Linked DNA regions of Homo sapiens: all the other regions are linked to region 1. Evidence: fine-mapped expression QTL. A gene starts in region 1. Each other region holds a variant in brackets. All regions are shown on one strand. Distances are between the middles of the regions. Region 1 holds the start of SH2D4B (SH2 domain containing 4B). Region 2 overlaps SH2D4B (SH2 domain containing 4B). Region 3 overlaps SH2D4B (SH2 domain containing 4B). Region 4 overlaps SH2D4B (SH2 domain containing 4B).

Evidence for each region.
Region 2: its variant is fine-mapped to the expression of SH2D4B in whole blood (TOPMed, PIP above 0.99).
Region 3: its variant is fine-mapped to the expression of SH2D4B in lung (TOPMed, PIP above 0.99).
Region 4: its variant is fine-mapped to the expression of SH2D4B in thyroid (GTEx, PIP 0.93).

Annotation. Positions count from the first base shown.
Region 1 is chr10:80,535,920-80,541,047 of GRCh38, reverse strand. SH2D4B (SH2 domain containing 4B) reads right to left here and starts at 3,146. Exons shown (of 8, transcript NM_001388272.1): 1 at 2,533-3,146. The coding sequence starts at 2,716. TSPAN14-AS1 (TSPAN14 antisense RNA 1) reads left to right here and starts at 5,106. Exons shown (of 2, transcript NR_120661.1): 1 at 5,106-5,128. RefSeq lists enhancers at 86-265, 1,303-1,442, 4,749-4,848 and a silencer at 4,919-5,108.
Region 2 is chr10:80,626,408-80,631,559 of GRCh38, reverse strand. The region is part of intron 6 of SH2D4B (SH2 domain containing 4B); the gene reads right to left. It overlaps LOC105378387 (a long non-coding RNA gene), which reads left to right. Exons shown (of 2, transcript XR_946132.1): 2 at 1,467-1,874. Among named protein-coding and RNA genes, the nearest start is that of LINC02655, 21 kb to the left of the region's middle. The variant G/A (reference allele first, on the strand shown) is at 2,333.
Region 3 is chr10:80,577,480-80,582,631 of GRCh38, reverse strand. The region is part of intron 3 of SH2D4B (SH2 domain containing 4B); the gene reads right to left. Among named protein-coding and RNA genes, the nearest start is that of SH2D4B, 42 kb to the right of the region's middle. The variant A/G (reference allele first, on the strand shown) is at 3,103.
Region 4 is chr10:80,608,639-80,613,790 of GRCh38, reverse strand. SH2D4B (SH2 domain containing 4B) reads right to left here. Exons shown (of 8, transcript NM_001388272.1): 6 at 4,240-4,367. Among named protein-coding and RNA genes, the nearest start is that of LINC02655, 39 kb to the left of the region's middle. The variant C/T (reference allele first, on the strand shown) is at 2,235.

The sequences.
Region 1 (5,128 bases):
TACTTTCGCTTCTCACTAACAGTTTCTTGCCTTTCCTATCATTCTGACTCATTCCCGAGTTCTTTCTCAAGACAGTTTCAAGAGCCTGGACATCAACTGGGGCTGGGGTCTCACCAGCATCTGGAGAGCCTCCTGAGTCCTCTGGCAACATCAAGGGAAGGAAGAGAAGATTCCTCCGTGGAGCCCGTCCCCGCACAATTCCCGCCCTGGGACACGGCACGGCTGCTTTGAACCAAGCCTCACCCTTGGCACTCGAGTTGGCTGTGTTCCCTATGATCCATCTACCCACCGTCTCCAGGACAAGCACTGCCCCATTCACTGAAATCAGCACATAGTAATGCTGGATAAGTGAATGAATTGGTGAATGAGTGAACAAGTGAATGTGTGCACAGCTCACTTGTTTAATTGGAGTTCCGAGTTTGGAAGTGAATGAACAGAAAAAAAATCAGTCACCAGACCCCAGATCCAAGTCATGAGATGTAGCAGCTGGATGACCTTGGATGTAGCGCATCACTTCTCTGAGCCTCACCTTCCTTATCTGCAATGAAATCAGGGAGCTTGCCCTGCCACCCCGCAGGGACACGGGAGCAGCAAGGGCTGGGTAGGCACCCAGTCAACGTAAAGCTCACAAGTTGTTGCCACCCTTCATCACGACCCCAGGACATGAAGCAGATACTGTATATCCTGGACCCTCCGGCCGAAAGCTCTTCCGGCTCCTGGGCAGGGCCAGCCCCCAGGCTCCCCAGTGGCATGCCCAGACAGTTCCAAAAGGCAGGACCGAAGCAAAGAGCCAGGATCCAAGCGGGATCCTGACCTGGGATACACACATTCCTCGGCGTGCTTTCCTGCTTTTCCATTCTTTATAAATCAGAAAATTAATTACCAGAAAAAGGATCTTCTGCACCAGAAACTCAAATGAGTTTAATGTATAATTTATACATGAAAATGTAGATGTCTATGTGTGACAAATCTCTGTATAAATATTTTTGCAGTTAAATTTTTAGGCATCTGTCTCCCTCCAAGAAGAGTCATCATGCAGGCATCATGAGTCCCCAGGGCTCAGGCCGGGTGGTGCTGGCAAGGTGGCTTGTCATTTCACCAGTTAGTGATGCAGCTGCCAGCGCAGCCCAGCCCGGAAGGCCCCAGCTTTGGCAGCAGCCACCTGCAGCCAAGTCACAGCTCTGCCCCAACCTCCCCGGCAGGGTCCTGCTGTGTCTTGTTCAAAACAAGGATTTAACACCATGTGCCACCTCTGTGCTGGGCCCAGGGGAGGAAGATAGAGTGGAGGAAGCCCTCACACACCAGTGCCTTTGAGCCCATCGGAGAGCCAGGCAAGCAGATGAGGAATGACAATGACAGGGTGGCAAATGCCAGGGCAGGCGTGGGTCCTACATGCCAGGCAGCCACAGAGGAGCAAGTACTGCCCTATGCAAGAGCATCCCTGAACACTCCAGGGCAGGGGGGCCACTCCTGATGGAGTCTGTCAGGTGGATGAAGGCAGAAGGACATTCCCAACGGTGAGAGCCACTCATGTGAAGACCAGAGACAAGAGCAAGCATGTCCAGATGATGTGGGTGTGGCCTGTGGCACCTGGTGGGGACTGGCCAGCAGTGAGCCTGGCATGGAGAAGAGCCAGATCACCAAGGGAGCTGTGTGCTCAGCCCTGAAACAGGACTTTGTTCTGGATTGAAAACTTCAAAGGGTGAAGGCACATAAGCCTTGCAAACTGTAAAGTGCATGCAGCATCCACAGAAACTACAATCCCTGGCAGGATTGAGTCCTGTGCCAAGCCAAGCCTCAGCAGCCTGCCAGTTTCTGGCCCAGGGGTCCTGGATGATTTCCTTCACCCACAGGTGTACCAGTCCATAGGATTGACTGGCACATGACTTTGCATACAAAACACCTGAAATGTAGGCTAGGCCCTTGCTTCTCATCTGCAGTTGCTACGACCATTTGGGGATGGTCATTCATTGTGTGGGACGTTCCCTGATGCCCTCTCTCCGGATGCCCAGTGGGGCTCCAGAGACAACCCACAGCATCCTCCTGCCGGAGGATCTGGAGGGAGAGGCACAGTCCACAGAAGGGGCCCTAGCCAAGAACTGGTGTGCCACGCATGCCAAGGAGAAAGGAACTGCATATCTACACCACACTCTGGCCCAGAACCAATGGCAAGGGTCACAAATATGCCGTCGTTCACCCTACCATTGCCAACCACGTCGGAGCACAATCTGAAGTCTCAATGGTGTCTTCCCAGAACTCGGGCCTTCCACAACAAGACAAAGCAAGTCCCAACTCCCCGACTCCAATAAGGGCCGCTGGACAGCCTCTGCAGCAGCCTCGAAGCCCTAAGGTCCTGGCCAAAAGGCAAAAGCACAGGCTCATGGGACCTGATGCCCACAAGACAAGGGTTTCAAGCCCCCAGCCCTCATCACCCCAGTGCCCATCTTGAAGAAGGGCACAGCCTGGCCCTGCTAATTTTTCTACCTCCTGGGGGACTGGTGGCCTACCTCTCTGTGACTCCCAGCCACGTACCTCGCTTGGTCTTTGGAGGCCTGAGACCCTCGTCCTGGGCCAGGGCCTCCCAAGTCTCCCGCTCCTTCCAGCGCCTCAGCTGCTCCTCCCGCATTTTGTAGAAGAGGATGTGCTTCTGCACATCGCTGAGCTCGGCAAGGAGCTCGGGGTCGATGTACATGTCGTGCAGGATCTGCTGCAGCATGATGCCACCTGGGATGCACGCACCAGAAGGGCAGCCAGCAGGGGAAGCAGGGCCAGGCAGAACGCCCGAGGGGCTGCTCTGCACTACGGACTGCTCAATCCGGGGCCACTCTCGGTGCCCCTTCTCTGTGCAGCATTGTCAGTTGGCCTCAGCTTGCAGCCAGCGACGAACTCATCTCCTCTACCCAGGACAGCAAAAGAGGCCAGGCAACAGGACCCAAAGGGGCAGGTGGGACTCTGCAAGGGGGAGCAACCACCAGGAGCAATCTAGTCCTTCTCCTGGGTCACCAAGCACGGCATCCCAGGAGAGCCCATGTCTTGGCATCACCTGGGGTTCTGAGACAATGGGAAGGGCCCAAGCCTCCAGCTCAGCCAGGAAATGCCCAGTCCCAGCCCTGCCTGGGCTGGTAGGTGTCGAGTGATCTGTTAGTGGAAGGTAACAATGACACCAGCTATATCAATGACACTGCCCCGGCCAGCTGGGAACTGATCTCTCCTCTGCAGATAAGAGGAGGAGAAGGAGGCAGACTTGCCTACTAAATTCCATGTCTTTTCAGCCAATTTCAAACACAGACCAGAGGAGCCTGCCAGAAGCTGCTGGGCCCCTCAGCCCTCTCAGCCCCTCTCTCTGCGGGTTCCTTCGCTGCCAACTTTCTTCCTTTCCAGAACATTTGGCATTCTGAGATGATGCGTTTAAAACTCTGCCTTGGGGGAGGAAAGATTTTTCCTCCTATCTGTGTTACAGCCAAGAAAGAAAACAAAATGGAATCAGTAGAGACAACTGGAGGGGATTTTATCTTGGAATTCCAGGACAGAAAGGAAGCAGACATCCTTTCCCTTTGGCCTATATATAATGAGATCCTGCAGCCATGCGTGGCTGACAGATAAACCCTCCAGGGGCCAGTTTTAATGGTCGTTGTTAATCTTGTTTGTTGCAGATGCCTGGAGTTGACCAAAAAGAAAGAAGATGAAACTGGCTCTTCTCTGTGCCCTGATCAGAAGCACACTGGAATGGCGGGATGTTGCCTTCTGCTGGGAGGGAAGCCACCCTCTCTTTGGTGTGTGAAGGTGGGTAGAAGCTGCCGTTGCTGAGATCTTTAGGGTGAAAGCTCACCCTAAATATGTGCTCAGAGCAAATCACAGATGCCTTCTTATTGGGACAAGGATATTGAAGCTCAGAGAAAGTAAGTGGCTTGCCTATGGCTTCCTAATGGACAAGTCACTGTATTGGGACTCCCCCGTTTTGAAATTTGACATCCACTAGCAACTATGAATCTGTTGATGGTTTGAAAACATAACCCAACCAAGGGAAAACAAACGAACCAACAGGATTTGGCACTGTGGCTTGGTTGGATTGGTGACCTTCCTGTCCCCTTCCTTGCCCATGAGGGTGGAAGGTGGATCAGGTACCCAAGAGTGATGGAAGAGGGGTGGAGAGTTGGCATTCTTCCCCCTCTGCAAGGTTAACACAACAGGAAGATGGACTAAGCAGATTCAGATGAGCTGTAAGCCCATAGGGTCAAAGCTCCTGCTCAGCTAGGCAATGTCCAGGTCACAGGAGTGGAGTCAGACGCCCCACCCCTCCCCACCCAGGTCCAGCTAGCTGGTCCCAGTGTGCCCAGACCTTCCTAGAGCCGCCACAGGACTCGCCTGTCCGCTGCAGAGCTGTGGCCCTGGACTCCCATCCACCCACCTCAGGGCTTGCACCGACTCCCCCACCGGGAGTCCTGGCTCCCCTCAGTTTCTGAGACCGGGGGTCTTCCCTAGCCTCTGCCCAGCTATTCTCTTTCTCCCCCTCGCCGTGGCTGGTGGGAGACCCCCGAGTCCAAAGAGGAGACAAGGGGAGGAAGGCCCCCAGGGTCTGGGCTCCTGCGGGCAGCTTCTTTTTGTCTTTCCCGGGCCGCCAGATACCTACGACCACAAGAGGGCACGGGGCAGGGACAACGCTGTAGGGAGCAGCAGGAATGGGCCGGCTGGAGGCGGGCGAGAACGGTGATGGTGCCACCCTGGAGGACCGTCGGGAGAGTGAGGCAGCCGGACTAGAATGACCCCCGCTAGCGCCCATTTTGTGCGATAGAGGGGATCTCGCTGGGGGCGGGGTGATCCCTGGCACTCCCAGGTCAGCGGGGCAGGAGGCCAAGAGACACCGAATCGCGGGGACGTGAGCGTCACCCAGCCGCGGATGGCAGCCCGGGAGCGGGTGAAGTCCGGTTTCCGGGAAGACGTGCTTCGGGGCCCGCCTATCAATTCTCCTGGGCCTGGCGGGGTGGAGGGCGGGGGACTCGGCCAGGCCTGGGGCGCTCCCTGGCGGCCGCACGGGGAGGCACTCGGCTTCGCAACCTGGGTGTGCCTGGCCTGGGTGTGCGGGAGGACCCCAGAGGACCCCAGAGGACCCCAGGAGCAGGGGTCGCGC
Region 2 (5,152 bases), 90 kb before region 1:
CATTTAGGTTAGGCCTGGTGTGGTGGCTCATGCCTATAATACCAGCACTTTAGTAGGCCAAGGTGGGAGGATCGCTTGAGCCCAGGAATTCAAAACCAGCCTGGGCAACATAGCAAGGCCCTGAATCTACAAAAACATAAAAAATTAGTTGGGCATGGTGGCACATGCCTGTGGTCCCAGCTACTCAAGAGGCTGAGGTGAGAGAATCACATGAGCCCAGGAATTCAAGGCTGCAGTGAGCTATGATCATGCCACTATACTCTAGCCTGGAAAACAGAGCAAGGCTCTATTTCAAAAATACATTAATAAATAAACAAACACTTCCATTGATTCCCTATCTTGGCTATTGTGAATAATGCTACAATCAACATGGCAGTATAGATATCTCTTCGACATACTGATTTCATATCCTTTGAATAAATACCCAGTAATGGGGTTGCTGAGATTATGGGGTACTTCTATTTTAATTTGTATTTTCATGCTTTAAGAGAATGTGCAAGGGGTCTCTTTCCTCCAACACTTGCCAACACGTTATTTTGTGGACTTGACTTTTAACATGCCAAAACGACCAGTAATACCAAAGTGACGATGTTATGTGTCTCACCCACCTAAAACCCTTGAGCAGCTTCCCCTGACTTCCAGCAGAGCCCAGGCTCAGGCACAGCAGACAGCAGGCTCTATGCCCCGCCTCAACCTACCCCTCTGGGCTCATCGCACTGTTTGGTACTGGCTGCTCCCCACAAGCCGACCTTGGACTGAGGCCACATCCCAGCCCCCTTCACTCCAGCTGACCCTGACTCCTCATTGAAAGCCCCATCCTCTTCTCTCCCCAGAATCATGGGCTATGGGCAGCCTACACTCTACCTTTGTGCAAGTTAGGAAAAGATGACCTGAGTAACTGAATTAGAAAAATGTGCCTCTCTGGGCCAAAACCACAAAGCCTATAGCTTGATTGGGAAAGGCAGTGCCTGCACATCAATCCTCTGTTCTCCCCAACTATCCCCACCCCTCAGGTCCCCCAGTTCAGTGTGCAACCTGCTCAGCTGATCAGGAAATCCTTTATCTCCCAGGAGACTGTCTTGGATATCCCACATTTGGGTTTTCACAACATCCTGCCAAAACCCCACAGTAGATTAGTAAATAGGCTATGAGCCGCTCAAGGCTGGGGCCTGTGGCTGCCATGGGAGCAAGCAGCCCAGGCCTCCCTCCAAGACAGAGACCTGTTGCTGGGAGCAGCATCATGCCCTTCAGGATCCTCCATGGGGTCATGTTCTCCCTAGGGTGCTTCCAGTCAAGGGCAGGGCACAGGGGTACTAGAGCCACCATTCCTACCCAAAGCAAGATTCCTCTAGCAGGCAGTCTTTGCTCTGGGGCTCTCAATCAGCCTGGCCAAGATTTTTCTCTGAGCTGTACTCCAGGAGCAGGCTCACTTACCAATCATCCTTCTTCCCTCTCTCCCTCCACAGGTGTCAGATGTGTACCGTGTTCTGAAGACTCTCCCCACCTTCTCCAGCACCCTCCCCCTTTGTCCTTCACAGGCATTTCCTCCAATCAGTCTTTCGTCTTCTGCTTCATGGAAGACCTGACGGACACAGACAACTCATCTTTACATCCTCCATGCCTGGGACATTGGCAGGGATTCTGCAGCAGTGATGAAGAGCATGGACACAAATCATAACCCGGGACTTGTTCCATGGGTAGCCTTGAGAGCAGGTGACTTCAACCTCTCTGAAACCGAGTTTGAGGTCCTCATCTATTAAGTGGTATTGATATTAATAGCTATGTCTTACGGCTGTTTGAGAATGAATAAGTTAATGCATGAATACGTTTAGCACAGTGCTTAAAAATCACAATAAATATCTAATACAATATAACTAGCTGCATTGGATGCACTAAGTATTCTACACATGTGTTAGTGCTGCAAACTGCCTGGTGCTGGTAGCTGCAATGGTCACAGGACTGTCAGGCTGTGTCCCCCACCACAACCCCTGACACACACACACTCAATTCTCTCAAACATAGGCTGCTGAAGGTGACTTCAGCACCATAAACTTAGCTGGGCCATTTCTGGGAGACTGTCTAGGTCTCTGTGAATTCTGCCTCCTTTTTGATATTGCTGATATAGTTTGGATGTGTGTCCCCTCTAAATCTCATGTTGAATTATCATCTGCAGTGTTGGAGGTAGGGCTAGTGGGAGGTGATTTCTCACAAATGGTTTAGCACCATCTCCTTGATGCCATCCTCAGGATAGTGAGTGAGTTCTTGTGAGATCTGGTTGTTTAAAAGTCTGTAGGATCTTCCCCCTCACTCTCTCTCTCTTGCATCCCCTCTC[G/A]CCATGTGATATGCTGGCTTCCCCTTTGCCTTCCACCATGGATAGGAAGCTTCCTGAGGCCTCATTGGAAGCCGAGCAGATGCTAGGGCCATATTTCCTGTACAGCCTATAGAACTGGGAGTCTATTAAACCTCTTTTCTATATATTAGTAAGTTACCCAGTCTTGGGTATTTCTTTTTCTTTTTCTTTTTTTTTTTTGAGATAGAGTCTCGCTCTGTCACCCAGGCTGGGGTGCAGTGACACGATCTCGGCTCACTGCAACCTCCACCTCCCAGATTCAAGCAATTCTCCTGCCTCAGGCTCCTGAGTAGCTGGGATTACAGGCATGCGCCACTATGCCTGGCTAATTTTTGTATTTTTAGTAGAGACGGGCTTTCACCATGTTGGTCAAGCTGGTGGTGGTCAAACTCCTGACCTCATGATCCACCCGCCTCAGCTTCCCAAAGTGCTGGGATTACAGGCATGAGCCACCACGCCTGGCCAGGTATTTCTTTATAGCAATGCAAGAATGGCCTAATACATTTGCCTAGAAATCAAAATTGCAATTTGGCACAAAACCAAAGGTAATATAACCTCATAGTTCAGGATAGCAAACAGCATTCCATAGAAAACCCAACCCCTCAAGAGAATTAGCATAGGATGCTTGCAAGGAGAATCTATGTTTTCCTTCCCCATTCACTTTGCCCTCTGTATAAGTCCGTTTTCATGCTCCTGATAAAGACATACTTGAGACTAGGCAATTTAAAAAAGTTTATCGAACTTACAGTTCCACATGGCTGGGGAGGCCTCACAATCATGGCAGAAGGCAAGGAGGAACAACTCACATCTTACGTGGATGGCAGCAGGCAAAAAGAGGAGCTTCTGTGGGGAACCTCCCCCTTATAATACCAACAGATCTCATGAGACTTATTTGCTATCACGAGAATAGCACAGGAAAGACCTGCTTCCATTACTCAAATTACCTCCCACTGGGTCCCTCCCGAACACGTGGGAATTCAAGATGAAATTTGGGTGGGGACACAGCAAAACCATATCACCCTCTGATCTCTCTCTCCCCCTGGATTGCCTCTCAGCCAACTACAGAGGGTCTGGGAATTAAGCATGAATCATCACCCACCTCTGCTTCTTCTGAGCACCCTACAACCTCCTGGCTGAGGAAACAGGGGAAGGCCCTACCTCACCCCTTCCAGCTGGGGAGCTAGCATACTGTCCGAGTCCTTGAAACTTCCTCACTCTGCTAATGACTGGGCCTGGCTAAGGGATGCAGCCTAACCAGCCAACGCTCCAGGGTGACAATTTTAGAATGAATATTGGAGAATGCAACTGAAGATTGATTCTGAGCCAGTTCTCATTCCCAGACAATGGTAAACATTGTTTTTCCTATAGTTTCCAGGAACATTTTCTCTCCCCGCTTCCTTCCTTTTCTTCCTTTTCTTCTTCCTCCCTTTAATAAATATGTATGAAGCACCATCTAGAAGCCGGGCCCCAAACTTGGCACCTGGGAGTCAGCAGTGAATGAGACACAGTTCTTGCCTTCTAGAAGCTCTGACTCTGGACAGAAATGAAGATTGATGGGAATTTTGTAATATAAAAATAAAAGGCTAACTGTGAGCAATGGTGATAAAGGCCACATAAGCTATTGGCTCAGGCACTGTGGCTGCACCTAAGGGAGGCACCCCACCCAGTTCTGGAGCCCAGCGGCGGAAGTGATGTTTAGACTGAGTCCAGAAAGGGACAAGAGGGGGCAAGGCAAGGAGGGAAGATTGCAAAAGTCATTAGCAAGTGGCTCTTTGTGGCTGGAGGGAGGGCTAAGCTGGGAGCTGGGCAATGGCCAGAGGTGTACGATAGGCAGCAGTCAAGCTCCAAAGGGCTCTCCATACCACTGAAAGGATTAATTCTGAGGGCAGCGGACAGCCACTGATGTTTCCTATACAGAAGAAAGATATAAGAATGTTCAAGTGTGGAAAATGGATTGAAGGATTACGGTTCAGAGCCAAGGATTTCAGCTCAGTGAGGGCTTCCTCACTTAAGAATTGCTTCATGGCTACATTTCACAGTGTACCATTGATATCTGGCTCTCTGACCCCTACCCTCCCAGAAATGGCTTCCATTTTGACGCACAGAGGTTAAACGACACACTCAGGCTCCTGTGAGACGCTTATGTCACAGCCAGCATTAGGCACGATCTGGGGCCTCTGTGACCCTTCTCCTTTGGTCTTCCTATCAACCCTGTTATAACCAGTTCACAACTGAGGACACTGAATGTCAGGAAAAGAAGGGATTCACCCAAAGTCACAGGGCTTAATAGTCACAGAGAATCTATTAAGTGGTGGAGGCAGATCTGAACTCAGGTCCTCGGACTCCAAGTCCAGTGCTCTCTCTGTTCTATACCATGTTGTCTCATGCAAAGGATGGTAAATGCTGTGAAATAAACAAGAAGGAAGAGGTTGAGAAATCAGGGAAGGCTCTGTGGAGGCACTGAATGGGAATGTGAGGTGGGCCTTGAAGGCCAGATAGATTCTGTGTAAGCAGTGAGGGGTAGTAATGAGGTGTGAGGGAGAGAAGGGACAAGATGAGTGAAAAGTCAGAATGAAGACCAGGCATGACACACCCATGGGGCATTTATATAAATCTAACATGAGAGAAGCTTAATCTAAATCTCAGGAGGTTAAGACACATGGCAGATGGAATGGGAAGTCTAACATATATAGAATCCGAGTCCCACAGGAGAGGAGAGGAGGCAATATTTTAAGAGTGAATAGTTAACAATTATCACAGACACATACTATAAAACTATGCAAAGATATTCCATTCTTCTTT
Region 3 (5,152 bases), 42 kb before region 1:
ACATGAGCCCGACTCCCTGTTTCTTTCCTTCAGGGTGCTCTCTGACCATATCCCTCATCAAGAGATTGAGCAGATATCCCAAGGAACTCCAGGATTCCTATTTATGAAGTCACCCTGGGCCCCAGTGCGGGGGTCCTGGTTCCAGAAGGGTAGCCTAGCAACCAGATGAAGCCCTTGCCAGCACAGTATTTTTAGCAGAGGATCACATGAGATTGGGTCACCAGAATAGTGCTAAAAGGCTGATTTTATGTGACTCGGATTTTTAATATAAACAAAGACTGCACAAAGAAATATTTGCCAACTCTGTACACCCTAGGGGCAACCCTGGCTGCAGGTCCCACCATTCAGAATTCAGACCTTTCCTTAATCTCCCCGTTTCCCTCCTGCTCCCTTCACTCTGCCTGATACCCCAACACCCCAGCGTTTCCCTTTCAACTTTCCCTCTTCTTCTGGCCAGAGGGAGGGAGGTGGTAGCCTGGAAAAAACAGATGAAAAAGTATTTGGTGAACAATTAGAAGAAGTCACTTACCTTCTTTAGCCCTTAATTCCCAACTCTTAGAGAGTGGGTCATAAGGAAATCGGAATTTTGTCTACTTTTAGCATTAAAAAATTAATCATTGAATTGGAGAAAAGTCCCCAGTCTATGTCAGGTCAGAAGGAACAAAAATCTTGTCATTTTTAAAACAAAGGAGTAAAAATGCACAGTTATCTCCTTTTATCTGCTTGTTGATCTATTGAAGTATACCAAAGGACCCACCCCTGACCCACTGGGGTCTTCCAGGCAGGAGCAGGTGTCAGGAAGAATACAGTCAAGGCCTGTCAGAGCCAGAGGGACATCAACTGCATGCTGCCACTTCCTTGTGCAGATAAGGAGTGTATCAATTTGCTCAGGCCGCCATAACGAAGTACCACAGATTGAGGAGGCTTAAATGACAGAACTCTATTTCCTCAATCATGGAGGCTGCAATCCAAAGTCAAGGTGTGGCAGGGTTGGCTTCGTGCTGAGGCCCTTCTCCTTGGCTGGCTGCCTTCTTGCTGTGTCACTCACAGCCTTCCCTCTGAGTGTGTGCCCGTCTGTGTCCAAATCTCCCTTTTTATAAGGACAGCAGTCATATTGGAGTAGGGTCTAACCCACTCGATCTCATTTTAACTGAATTACCTGTGTAAAGAGCTTATCTCCAAATATAGTTACATTCTGAGGTCCCGGGGATTAGGACTTCAAAATACGGATTTTAGCAGGGACATAATTCAGCCCATAACAAGGAGATTGGAGCCCAGGAAATGACTGGCACACAGTGGATAAGTGTCTGACTGGCCTATGGTGGATAAGTGGCCCTTAACCACCTCAGATTACAATGCAATGTTCCTACTTCAACTGGCTGTGACTAAAAGGAAGCAGCAAGTTAAATTGTAGGGCCATGTTCAATCAGTTCTTCTTCACCTGGAGAGTAGGACACCACCCAGGGAACCAGAGGCCTACAGCAACCGCCCATCTCAGAGGAAAATGACTGGCCATTTACTGTGATAAAGGAAAGCTCTTCACAAGGATGGGGACGACAAAGGAAAACATTTTGCAACTACTGTTGCATTACACATGGTCTTGCTAAAATAACGCTCAAAGCTGAAATTGCCTAAAAATTCTCATTGCTGTTGCAACTACCAGAATTCTCTGAGCCATCTAATACCACTGAAAGAAAAGCCCATTTTTCTGAGGTTTAGCAGCCAAAAGGCCAGACACGCAAAGACTCCCCTGCTGCCTAGGAATTAATCGCCTTGCTCTGGCTGCCCAAAGCCCTCTGAGCTGTCCAGCTTATTCAATCTCCCTTCTCCTCATAACCCATCAGTAACAGCACACCACAGGAACCCACAGAGGCCAGGGTCTGCCAGAATCCTGTGGAAAATGTCATCAAGACAAATGCCTTTTCTAGAAAGTGAAAAATTTTTTAAAATCCTAGGCCCCCTAAGCAATGGAACAGACCTTTTCTTGGCCAAGGGGACTCATGAGAAACTTTAAAAACTGAGTTCCCAGCCATGATGGGAGAGGAGATCAGACTTGCCTCAGTAACCACCATTAGGCTTTCTTCCCTAAGGACTAAATAGAAACCAGCCCTTTTGAAAGACTGATATCAACCAACAGCCTGATGCTGCCCCTCCCTTTTCATGGTTTTGACACAACAACTGACCAGCCTTCCTTCCTGATAAGAGACCACCGACCACAGAGTAGTTCTGGCCAGTCTACAGAGGATGTACCCTAAGGGCCTTCACGCCCTCTGCTTTGCCTTTTGATGTATAGGGTCTAATTGTAATATGTAGACTCAGCTAACCTGGTCAGCATAAACTCCTGTCTCATTCTTCCCTGCCTCAAAGTGCCTGCTACCAGCTTCTGACCAGAAGCTGGGCTTCCCAGCCTGTCAAAATAGCCACCTGCAGGCTGCAACCCTTTAGGAGATATAAAGCTCCCCTTTCCAAATTTATGAACCTCATCATTTTTCAGGTGACAAAGGCATCCTCATTTTTGTTGTTAGTCTGGCCCCAATAACACCACAGTGAGCTGAAGCACTCCAAAAAAGCAGAACCAAACCTATGCTGTTCATTCCTCCATTGCCAGTTCACAGCACAGGACATAGCAGATATCAGGTGCTCCATAAATGCTGACCAGAGAAGTGAATGAGTTATCAAACAGGTAAAGAGAAGACAGGGTTTGTGATGATCCCCGGGAGGGACAGGGTACACCACATCATGTTGTTTTGTCGGCGTCAGCCTTGCCTAGAGAAGTTCTGGTAAAGTCTAAAATTTTCAAGAGAAAATTGAGAAGTAGAAAATTTTCCCACCACTTCTAATCTTATTGGAAATAAAGCAGTAATCGTTTCTAAAGTTGTATAGGAGTTCATTAGGTGGCCAAAAGGAACTCCAAACTTAAAGGAGAAAAAAAAAGGGAGTGGCCTTGAATAGAAAATGGAAAAAAAATTAATAAACAACTGAACAGAATCAACCATGTCTGTTCGTTAAGAGTAAAACCAGGAAGAGGTGGGAGTGGGAGGAGGGAGGGAGATTGCAAGCAGAGAAGGAAGGTCACAGGACCCCGGGGTGGAAGAAGAGCAC[A/G]GGATGTTTATTGAGCCGTGTTCTGTGGTCTTGAACAGAAGGAGAAATGTCCAGAAGCAATTTTAGGAGTTAAGAAAGCACGGGGGAAATAAATGCAAATTTTATCTGGCCTCAGGATCTCCTTTTTTCTAAAGGAACACTTTTATATGCATGTAAATTACATTCAAATGGCACCAGCCACAGCAGAATGGTTTTTAAAAACCGGTTTCCAGCTGTCTCATCTTCAGAGTTCCCTCTGTAACCCAATATAAAGATTCTGGGATTTTTTTTTCCATTTTCAGAATGCAGTTGTCATTATTACCTTTTCCATGACCTGGAGAATTAGCAGAACCTGCCTACATCCTCAACATGAGCTGCAGAAAGTGAGCCCAGCCCATCTCTCTCCATCACCAGGCTTTTCACCCAAGCTCTCACCTCTCCTCCAGCCTCCACCTATCTCCCTTCTCTGTGGGGTAAAAATCCCTCAATGCAGTCAATCTAAGCACTTTCTCTTTCCTGCAAATCTGCACACCCTCCCCAGCTCCCCATGGTGGGATGGTGCTGCCATCTCCTCATCTCCCAGCTTGGGACTTGGATGTCTTTGCTCTTTGCTTTCCCTCATCCCAACATCTAATTGATGCCAAGCCCTATTGATTTCACCACCACCATTTTGCTATATCCATCCCTTCTCTCCTTCCTCGTTGTCATAGACTCTGTCCAGACCCTTGCTCATTGGCCTTGACCATTGCAAAAATCTCCTAACTAGTCTCCTTGCCTGAAAACTCATCACTTGAATCACATCATTGCCATCAGTGGTGCTCCTAAAACTTCATCTGACCACATCCTTCTTTGTATCAAGATCCTGCTTTGCCCACAGAGGAAAGTCCACCCCCTTAATGTAGCATTTAAGAGCTTCACACCCTACCTCCTTTCCAGGCGTATGTCTGGCTCCATCCATCATGAACTTTTTCTCTCTCCTTCCAGCAGACCATTCATCATTCTACAGTTCTCCTTTCCATCTCTTGTGCTTGCTCATGCCCAGACCTCTAAAGTTACTCCTCTGCCCTCCATTATACTCCCCGGGGTGTGGTTGGCACTAAGGGTTGCTCATGGAGTTGTCTCTCTCTCCCCTGGCACCCTGTAAGCTTTTGAGAGCTGGTAGTTTATTTCTCCCCTCCTCCCCCACAACAAACAGCCTCCCCTTAGGTTCTCAGGAAAAAAAGAGAGTATTAAATGAAGGTTGTTGGTACATTCCTACAAGCAAGACTCAGAATGTTAGAACCCTACTGTTGAAAGACACAGTAAAAATTATCTCACTTTGGAAAGTTGACATGGGCGGATTGCTTGAGCTCAGAAATTCCAGATGAGCCTGGGCAACATGGCAAAACCCCATCGCTACAAAAAATACAAAAATTAGCCAGGTATGGTGGTGCATCCCTGTAGTCCCAGCTACTTGGGGGGCTGAAGTGGGACGATGGCTAGAGTCCAAGAGACGGAGGTTGCAGTGAGCTGAGATTGTGCCACTGCACTCTGGCCTGGGTAACAGAGCCGGACCCTGTCTCGAAAAAAAAAAAGAAAGAAAAAAAATTATCTAAGCCAATCTCTAACCCAATGCATAAATCCCTTGGTGAAGCTGTTTTTGGTTGTCTACTGCTGAGTAACAAATTACCAGAAAATTCAGTGGTCTAAGGCCAGGCGTGGTGGCTCACGCCTGTAATCTCAGCACTTTGGGAGGCCGAGGCAGGCAGATCACGAGGTCAGGAGATCGAGACCATCCTGGCTAACACGGTGAAACCCCGTCCCTACTAAAAATACAAAAAAAAAAGGCCGGGCGCTGTGGCTCACACCTGTAATCCCGGCGCTTTGGGAGGCTGAGGCGGGTGGATCGCAAGGTCAGGAGATCAAGACCATCCTGGCTAACATGGTGAAACCCCGTCTCTACTAAAAATACAAAAAATTAGCCGGGCGTGGTGGCAGGCACCTGTAGTCCCAGCTACTTGGGAGGCTGAGGCAGGAGAATGGCATGAACCTGGGAGGTGGAGCTTGCAGTGAGCTGAGATTGCGCCACTGC
Region 4 (5,152 bases), 73 kb before region 1:
TCCATTCTACTTTGGAGCTCTCGCATCTCATAAGAAAGCTGCCCCTCACTGCTGGGATCCCTGCACTGTCTACATGGCTGGGGAGTATCCTCCTCCCAGGTGGGGTCCCCCGTTTGTGCTTGCTCACGAAGAAGCATGCCAGTAACACCCTACAGAGGACAGCCAAAGGCCCACCCAAGCCCAGGTGAGGCCACGCTTGAGATCCACTCCCAGCACCTGAGCAGGGTCACATGGAGATAATTTACCAATGCCAATGATGTCACCCACCGGGTAGTCCCATTCTGTGCCAAGCCCTATGGGCAAGCAGCAAGGCAGCCAATGGGTTGTCACCCAGACAATAAATCATAGACCACATTGTGACTGTTTTTGTAGAAGTAAAGCTCAGGAAGAGAAATGGGTTCTGACTGAGCCAATGTTCAGACAGAGAACATTCTTAATAATTTTAGATACATGTCGAATTTTGAAAATACCTTTTTCCCCAAAGCCAAGGTTATATGTACTAGCATTTCTCACAAGTAGTTTGATATAACTACAATCTCTCTCCCAATTCCTGGAACATAACAATGAACAAAGGAGAAACAAGGAATTACTATCACTCTTTGTAACCCAGGAGACTCTACCTAGAACCCTGTGGTCCCAGAGAAAAGCCTGTTCCCAGTCCCCTCTCACTCTGCACTCTGTGCCCATTTCCCCAAACCTGATTTCCCAAAGGAGCCTCTGGTGGTTGACCCCAGATCCCAGGAAACATCAGGAAACACACTGGCATGGCTTTTTATGGTGGACAAAGCACTCCTGTTGGCTCAATCTTCGTAAGTGTCCTGTGAAGTAGATGTTACAATGCCAGTTTCACAGATGGGGAATTTAAAGGACACATCCAAGGTCTCAGAGCCGCTAAGTTCTAGAATGGACCCCATATCTTCAGATTCTTTGTCTATTTGCTGTTTGGATAACACTGGCACAAATCCACATGTGTTTGAGGAAAGGGAAGGAAATCATTCGAGTAGTCATGTTTAACCTGCATATGAAATCTAACTGAATTAACTAAGACTCTTTTATCTGGGAAAGAAAAGATTTGTATTGGGATTCTGACAGATTATATTATTGGCTCAAATTCTTCTTCCCTCTCTGTTGCCACACCCTTTGACATAGGACTCTGCAGTTCCTCGTAAGAAAAAGACAGAATATATTTTCCCATTCCTCAGCTCTGTGAGGTACAAGGCAAAGTGACAAGGTGCTGGCTCTAAGAATAGGGCTCAAGAGCCTGGCATGCTTCCAGTTGCTCTCTGATGTCTGTCCTGTCACCATGAGAAGAGCATGCCTGAGCTGGCCCACTGGTCCCAGAAGAGTGTAATAGATCCATGGTGCAGAGATGCCCCAGCTGAGACGCCCAACCAAGCCCAGGGAGAGCCGAGTCCCCTGCCAACCTGCAGCAAAAACTCCTTAACAAATTAGACTGGTGCAGGCCACCTGCCTCTGTAGGAATTGGTACAGAGGAAGTCCTAGCCCCTCCACCAGGGAATTCCTATATTGAAAGAGAAGTGGGAACACACTCACTGTTCCAGACTTTGGGATTTTATAAGTGAGTAAAGTTGAAAAAAAAAAAAAAAAGCAGGAGTGGGGGAGGTCCCGGGCTGCTAACTTTTTACTTTTTCAAGCAAAGGCAATATATAAAAATAACCATGACTTACTATCCCATCAATTCATAAAAGATAGGACATTTTAACACTAAAACTGAGGAAAGGATATAATCTTAGAATATGACACAGTCCTTTCTAAGCAAAGTTACTTGGCCACCCTCCATATGTGAGCCTTTTTCTTTCCTTCTGTCACAGATCAGTGAAAATTCTGTCACAAAATAGCTCCAGCCTGTGTAACAGCAACTTTTCTGCATGCTTTATGGTAGAACTGTCAGAACATGAAATTAGCTACATAAATTGTGAGACTTAAATCTTGGTTCTGTTTGTTCTGTGACAATATAAAAGTTACCTTTTAAAAAAAAAAAAAGTCAAAAAAGAAAACAAAGCTAAAAATAATTTGAGCACCTTGGTCGCACCTTCTCCACTGGCTGCCAAAGGCAGTTGGAGCACCCGGCACAGCTGCCCACTCTCACCCACGTGCCACTCCTGAGTTACACTCCACAGCTCCCTAAGATGCCAGTGCTGCACTTCCATGACCATAGTAACGTCTGAAGAAAAAGCACAGTGGTGACTTAAATGGAAGTTCTACCGGGGCTA[C/T]AGGGACACATAACTGGGACAGAAGGGAGAGGCAGAGAATCCCCAGCACCAGCTCCAGGGACACATGGCTCAGTCAGCCATGAGTGCTGTCTTCTCTCTGAGCCCTAAAGAGCCAGTCCAACCTTCTGCCAGATGTGTGGTGACCTGGGAGAAGAAAGAGGTCTGAAAGTGGACGGTGGTCATAACAGACTAGATTATCCTTCGAAACTATCCACTGTACCATGGACGCCACATTGGTTCTGGCTAACAGAATGTGAGCAACAACTTGACGTGTCAGTTTCCTGCAAAAGCTTTAGGAGCCAATGTGTGGTTCTCCAAGTCTCTCATTTCCCTCTGTCATGAGATCATCAATGTTTTTTTTTTTTTTTTTTTTTTTTTTTTGAGACTGAGTCTCGCTCTGGTTGCCCAGGCTGGAGTACAATGTTGCAATCTCGGCTCTCTGCAACCTCTGCCTCCCAGATTCAAGCAATTCTCCTGCCTCAGCCTCCTGAGTACCTGGGATGACAGGGGCCTGCCACCACACCTGGCTAATTTTTTAAAATATTTTTAGTAGAGACAAGCTTTCATCATGTTGGCCAGGCTGGTTTCAAACTCCTGACCTCAAGTGATCCTCCTGCCTCAGCCTCCCAAAGTGCTAGGATTACAGGCGTGAGCCACTGCGCCTGACTAACCATCAGCGTTTTAAATAGAGGCAGCTCCTTCAGGCTGAGGCGCAGACTAAAGTCTGAACCAACTCCCAAAGGGCACGTAACATGTGTAAGAAATAAACCTTGACTGGTGGGGGTCACTGAGACTTCAGAAGCATTTGTGACCGAGGTATATCCAATCTGACCAACATGACACGGATGCTATTCATTGGGTTGGAGAGCTCAACAGCAGTGGCAACAGAGGAAGATGGCAAGCTCATCTTGGAGGTATTTCTGTACTTGGTCCCTGGGTGAGAGGCAGGGGTGAGGGCTGAATACAGAGAGGCCTAATACATAGGTCCCTGACCTCACCAAGCATTAAGACCACCTGGGAAGGCTCATCTGACCCTCACATGTGTGGCTCTGGATTTTCAATGCAGAGAAGCAAGGGCTGTTCTTCGGAACTGTAAAGCCTGGGATCTAATCCCAATCCAAACATTTTCTTCCCACCTTCATCCATTCTTCCCATGGATACTTACTGAGCCAGGCACAGGGAAAACAAGCAAGCTCCTTAACCTCACAGGCTCACATTCAGGTGGGAGGACAGACAATAAGTAAATCTGATAAATACCAACTGGGCACACTCTGTCCAGGAAATGAGCAGGGTGAGCTGAGGGACACTGGGGAAGGCTGCTGTAGGTAAGGAGTTCAGGAAAGGCCTTTCTGAGGAGGGGATGTTTGAGATGGAAAATGAGAATGTGCCAGCCATGCAAAGAGCTGCTGGAAGACAGAAAATGTGAGCAGAGCCACGGCAAGCACAAAAGGTCTGAGATGGGAAAGAGGATGGCTTGTTTGAGGGACAGGAAAAAGGCCAGAGCTTTGGAAACAAGGTGAGCAAGGAGGGACTTTCAAGGAGCCACCCTGCCCTAACAGTCTATGTTTGGGTGACACTGACCTCTTCATTCAGCCATCTGTCATCTAATCAACAAGTATGTACCCAGAGCCTACAGTGTGACAGGCTGTGGCCAGGATCCAGGGATGGGGGTCCTAGCCACCAGCAGCTCATGCAACTCTCAGGGCTCACTGTCTTATGACCACAAAGAAGATGCCTCTGAGGGGCCCTTGGTGGCTACAGAGGCTGTGAGGTGACAGCAGTGGGCGAGAGCCATGTTCATCCCTTCCCAGAAGAGTTGGGAGGCCCGTTCAGCATCCCTGGGGCCTGCAGCCTCCTGGACTCCCACTGGGAGAGGGACAGAATGGAGATTGCTTAAAGTCCTCTGCCCCCTGATTATAACTGTCCTTCAGCACCCCTCCCCAACCCCAGAGAGAGGCAAAGATGTGGAAATCATCTGGCACAGGGCCCAGAAAAATGGTGCTACCATGGAACCAGGGGGCGATGAACTTGGTGTTCCTCTCGAAGCCAGCTCGGCGAGGCAGCTGCTCCTCCTTAAACCAGCGGACGATGACATCTCTGGAGACTGGGCGCAGCGGGCGCTCCCAGGTCCTGCTGAAGAGAAAGAAAGTGGGGAGGGCAGAAGAGTCAGGGAGGGAGAAAGAGCGGAGGGAGAGGAAGGCAGAGGGGAAGGAAAGAGGAAGGGAGAGGAAGGTAAAAGGAGGAGGAGGAAGGGGGGGTGGAAGAAGGGGCAGGGGAGGGCCATGAGAGAATGAATATGCTAAGCATGGTGCCCATATCCATGCCTACAAAGAGGATTAAAACAGCCCAGGTACTCGAAGGCATTTTGCAGATTATAATGTACCATCTGTTATTATTTATTTAAAAGAAAACTGTTACCGATTGCTTCAAAAAACAGCCACACAGGTGAGAATGAAAAGAGGCTAGGAGGGGGTGTCTGAGGGAAAGAAAAGGCACATTTTCCCTCGAGCACGGCCAGGGCATAAATACCAGCATGGATGAAGGAGGCTCCTGACGGAAAGTAAATGAGCGTGTCTCATCCCCTTCTCTCTCTCAGAAACAATTCTGGGTCTTGTCCCCTCCTTAGCTCTCCCTCCCCGCCCTCTGAGGGGACGCCTGCCTGTGCCACAACTCCTGCGCTTTTGTAAGGCAGAACCAGGGCAGTGAACAGAGAGAGAAGCTGGAGAACCTCAATTTGCTCTGGAAATGGCTGAGATTCCCTGCCCAGAAAATAAAAACTATGACAGAGGATACGGAGGCGGAAGGAAACAAAACCACACGTTGGTAACTACGGATGGAATGGGTGAGGGACTGAAGGCACGGAGGGCGGGAGGAGGAGGAGCACGGGAAGAGTTTAGACGAGGGAGTAGATACGTTTT